Linked DNA regions of Homo sapiens: region 2 is linked to region 1. A link means that fine-mapping ties the variant in region 1 to the expression of a gene that starts in the linked region. Tissue or cell type: whole blood. Region 1 holds a variant in brackets; the other region holds the start of a gene. All regions are shown on one strand. Distances are from middle to middle.

Region 1 (2,763 bases):
ATTTTAGATAAAATTTAACATTTTATCGAAATGTTAGATTTGGCCTACTATAATGAACTCAATGGTGAAGGATTGAAGGCAGTGGAACCTATTCCTCATACGTCTCATGCACTGCACCCCTATACCTTTGCTTTTCCTGTTTTAAGTGTCTTTTATGTTTATTTTATAGTTTGTCCAAATTGGGATCTTAACATTCCACTTGGTTGGTTTGCAGTTTTTGGTTCAACTTTTCCTTTCCTACTTCTTTTTTTAACTTAAAATTTGAGAATAAGTTTTTTTTTTCCACATTTCGAACTTTTCTAATTGCAGCCCTGTGATAACATTTAAAATGTCATCTGATAGTTTTTAATGTTTTTACTGTAAACCTGGGTTTGCTGTAAACCATTAGTGATATCTAGAGATTTGATTAGATTTTAGGTTTTTTTTTTAGGTTTTTCTTTTTGGCCAAAAACTTCATAAGTGGCTTGTACTTCTTTCTGCATCCTCTCAGGAGGCACACAAGGCTGGTTGTCTTTTTCTTTTTCTTTCTTTCCTTTTTTTTTTTTTTGTCTGGCTCTGCTGCCTAGGCTGAGGTGCAGTGGCACAAGCATGGCTTACTGCAGCCTTGACCTCCTAGGTTCAAGGGATCCGCCCACCTCAGCCTCCTCAGCCGGAGTAGCTACCACTACACCTGGCTTATTTTTTAAGTTTTTTGTAGAGATTGGGTTTTGCCATGTTGCCCAGGCTGGTCTGGAACTCCTGAGCTCAAGCAATCTGCCTGCCTCGGCCTCCCAAAATGCTGGGATTACAGGTGTGAGCCACTGTGCCTGGCCTGGTTGTCTTTTATACATTAAGACTCATCAGTGGGTTCGTATGTTGTCAGCTGATTCATTCAACAGAAAGTTCCCCTGTCAGCTTTTCACCTGCTGATTTTAGCAGTTATTAATGATCACTCATTGCCTAAATCCATCATTCAGAGGGGTGGTAAAGTAGCGATATTCTACATCTATCATGCCTTCTACATTTATTAGCTGGAATTTGTCTAAAAAGGACTTTCCCATATCAACTGTTTAGTTACTCTTATGTACAATTCATGTAGAAAAGACAGGATAAATGCTTGTATCTTTTTCTTTATTAATTTTCAGATGAGTTGGTTTAGCTTTCTCCAAATGTAATCAAGAGCCTTAAAGAGATTGAAACTCTTTAATGTGATTTGGCCTAGCCCAGCGCTAAATGTAGCCTAGTACTTAATATTGTTTTGTAATTCTTCTGGTTGATTTTTTTATTGATTGATTTCCAAAGAGAGGTGCCATTGGACCAGATCTTATAAAAATAACTTGGATAATCTGAGAGGTTCGTCATTCTTTTGTGAGTGTGTGTGTGTACAAATATTATATGCATATATATTTCAAATATATCTTAAACTTTTATCTGTAAGACTTTACCTAATTCATACTACCAGTTTCTATGCTTCCTTAAGATTTTGAGTGTATCTTGGATAAAAGAAAAAAACCTCTTCCGTATGGAAGCCATAATATAGCATTGGGACAACTACCAGAAATGCCCTGGGAATCAAATATCGAAATAGTTGGAT[C/G]AAGGCTGCCACCAGGGGCTGAAAGGTAATTTATTTCTTAGTTTTAGATTGTATTAATATCTAAATGTTAAATTTGGTGTACTATACTGAAGTCAGTGATCAAGGATTGAAGGTAGTGGAATCTGTTCCTCATATGTCATGCATTCCACCTTTGTAACTTTGCTTTTCCTCTCCTTTCTGCTTTAATGTTCTCCCTTCTTCTGTCCAAAGCCTAGCAATCTCCCTAACTAAAGTGCTAAAAGAATTGTCCTCCACTGGAAGTAAAATAGTATCTTCTTTTGCGCTCCCATACCTCTCTACTTTTCTCATAGCACTTAGCCACTTCCTACACTGCATTACAGTAACTTACTATACATCATGTGTTCTCTGTTAGACTATAAGCTGTGTTGCTTCATATTTGTACCCCTCACAGTGGTTTACATGTAGTAGGCATGTGTAAATATATATTGGACCAAAAAAATGGATGAAAGCAGACAAATATTTACAATAATTTTGTGTAACTAAATAGGTTTGTCATCAATTACTAATTTCTTAGTAGAAACATAACTTGATATACTCATTTATATTCATTGGCTTTTGTTAGTTTATAAAGATGCAATCTTGTTTCTGAAAAGCTTGTAATTATTCAGTTTCTTATTCTGATTTTAGGAGTAAATATTTTTTTATTTTATGTAGGATTGCTTTGGAATTTTTGGATTCAAAAGCACTTTGTAGAAATATCCCTCACATGAAAGGAAAATCTGCTATGAAAAAACGACATTTGGAAATTCTGGGGTATCGTGTAATTCAGGTATGAAATACTCATGTAATTCAGCCTCTAAAAAGCCCAGAGACACTAGCTGTACATGTGCTTCCTTTTAATGTGAAAGTTCCAGAATTACCTTTTTAAATATATTTTTTAAAATGTATCACTCAAACAGGCCAGATACAATAGCTCATGCCTGTAGCTACTTGGGTGGCTGAGGTGGGAGGATTGCTTGATCCTAGGAGATTGAGGCTGCAGTGAGCCGTGATCATCCCACTGCACTCCAGCCTGGGTGACAGAGCAAGACCCTGTCTCATAAAAATAAATAAATAAAAGTTGTCATTTATTTTATTGTCTTTAGAATATCCATATCTTATGATTTCTATATCTTACAAAGGAGAGAGGCACTGTAGAGATGGATAGAGTTATCAGAGGAAACAACTAG
Region 2 (2,500 bases), 42 kb before region 1:
GAGGTGTACCCAACAGCTCATTGAGAACGGGCCATGATGACAATGGCGGTTTTATGGAATAGAAAAGGGGGAAAGGTGGGGAAAAGATTGAGAAATCGGAAAGTTGCTGTGTCTGTGTAGAAAGAAGTAGACATGGGAGACTTTTCATTTTGTTCTGTACTAAGAAAAATTCTTATCCTGTTGATCTATGACCTTACCCCCAACCCTGTGCTCTCTGAAACATGTGCTGTGTCCACTCAGGGTTAAATGGATTAAGGGCGGTGCAAGATGTGCTTTGTTAAACAGATGGTTGAAGGCAGCATGCTCCTTAAGAGTCATCACCACTCCCTAATCTCAAGTACTCAGGGACACAAACACTGCAGAAGGCCGCAGGGTCCTCTGCCTAGGAAAACCAGAGACCTTTGTTCACTTGTTTATCTGCTGACCTTCCCTCCACTATTGTCCTACGACCCTGCCAAATCCCCCTCTGCGAGAAACACCCAAGAATGATCAATAAAAAAAATAAATAAATAAAATAAAAAAAAGAAAGTTGCACAGCATATTCCAACAAATATCAGTTTGGTACCTTTAGAGCCTTACTTTGTTGTAGTGATTATCAGCTGAAAATTATGTCTGTTGTAACTTTGGTAAGCATTCCACTTTGGTTATTTATTAGTGGTATTTTTTTTTTAAGTGTCAAGTGTCAAATCTTGGGACTATTAAAATACCATGGTAAGTAAAAAAAAAATATGGTCTGAGAACTGGTACCTATCCACGACATAAGTGCAGAAACTGAGAGTATGAGTTTGCATACTTTCAAAGTTACTCGACAGAGTTATTTCGTATATGCTAAAAAATAATAAGAAAAATCTGTACGTGTCTTTTCCATGTTTACATTTTTAAATTTCATTTTCCTAAGTATATTTTTGTGTATATTATAAAAGTAGTAGACTTCCAAGGACTAGGAGAACAACCTTAGATAGTAGAGAATCACCTAAACGACCTATATCTTCTTCAACAGCTTAAGCTGTGTACTGCGCTAGAGCCTCCCTCAATGAGGAACTACAATGCCCAGAATTCCCCCAAAATGCGTGAGCGACGTCCATTTCACCCACCTCGCCGCGACCCACCCTGGGATATGTAGTGCGTGACTTCCGCAGTGCACGCTGCGCCTGCCGGGCATTTTTTCCTGGTTTGGGGGCAAGGTCTCATGGGAAAGGTCATGTCTCTCGAAGAAAGGTTATAAACCCTGAGATATGAGGGTTGGGCGAGACATCCGAGCCTGTTTCGTTCCGTGTTGGGACCAGGAATAACCCTGACTTCTGAGCTTTCATAACCCCAGGATCCTCCAGAAAATTTGCGGCGCGCTGAGGGAAAACCTTGCTGGCAAGTCGGGACTGTGTGGCAGCGGCTATTTTTCTTTTCCCACCCAGCACGTTTTCGGGCTGGGGACATAGGGTTCAGTTGAGATACGGAGGCTTCCTTCGGGATATTGGGTTCTCTGAAGTGCGGATGGACTAGGGCAGGGCTGAGACCCCATTCATTCACTCATTTGTTTAGCTCTCCTTTATGCCCGGCGCAGAAGATACCCCTTAGGGTCCCAAGGCCCTTCCTGTAGTTAAGTTCCTTCCTTAAGGTCATTCAGCTGGGGCAAAGCTGGGGACTCGACACCTTTCTATGCTAACCATTGAGCTGCCTCCACTTTGAGCAGCTCAGTGGATGAATATAGTATCTTGAGGATACCTTTGATTTGTGCAGGGTTTTCTTGTGCAGGTTTGTGACCCAGGTCAGCTTAGGTCAGGATGCTGTACTGCTTGCCACAAAATAGCCTGTACTGTCGCGTCGTTTTTTCTTGTGAACAGACTGTTTGGCATAGCCGTAGAGAGGGGTCTGAGACATGAATTTAGTGATACAGCGTTGATTTGTTTGTGTAATGAAGCTGTTCAAGTGGAAAGAACTGAGTTGTAGTCCCTGCTTCACTAGTACTAGAAGGATTTTTTAAACCTTTTTGAACCTATTTTGCCTTATCTGTAAAATGGAAATAATATCAACCTGGAAGGTTAGCTGAGAGAATTTAATGAGATAATGTGTTTCAAACGTTCTTTGTAAATGGTAACATGTTGCAGAAATATTAGATTATATGACTTTAGTCCCTGCTTTTCTAACCATTACTTCTCAATTATAAATGTAAACATTTATAGCATATTTTTAAAACAAATTATTCTTTTTTCATAATTATCTTTAGTTCTTTTATTGTTTCAGCATGACTTGAAACATTACTTAATTTCTTAGTATTTCTTGATTGGTGCTTTAATTGTGTCGTTCATTGGTTAAAACCTATCCAAGGCCAGTAATGATTAAATTATATGACTTCTTTTATTTATTTATTTTCTAAAGAAAGGAATTATTTGAGCTCTTTAAGGGCACAAGAAAAAGGGGCAAGAAATTATCCTGAAAGCAAATAAACCTGAGACCATACTTCTGAAAAATTAAAAAAAAAAAGTATATATATATGTATGTA

What was found. PIP is the estimated chance that this variant, and not a neighbour inherited with it, causes the effect.
Region 2: FASTKD1 starts here. The variant in region 1 is fine-mapped to the expression of FASTKD1 in whole blood (INTERVAL, PIP above 0.99).

What each region holds. Positions count from the first base shown.
Region 1 is chr2:169,530,187-169,532,949 of GRCh38, reverse strand. FASTKD1 (FAST kinase domains 1) reads left to right here. Exons shown (of 15, transcript NM_024622.6): 13 at 1,460-1,598; 14 at 2,249-2,363. Among named protein-coding and RNA genes, the nearest start is that of KLHL41, 22 kb to the right of the region's middle. The variant C/G (reference allele first, on the strand shown) is at 1,574.
Region 2 is chr2:169,572,534-169,575,033 of GRCh38, reverse strand. FASTKD1 (FAST kinase domains 1) reads left to right here and starts at 1,169. Exons shown (of 15, transcript NM_024622.6): 1 at 1,169-1,365. RefSeq lists enhancers at 958-1,057, 960-1,562, 1,418-1,587.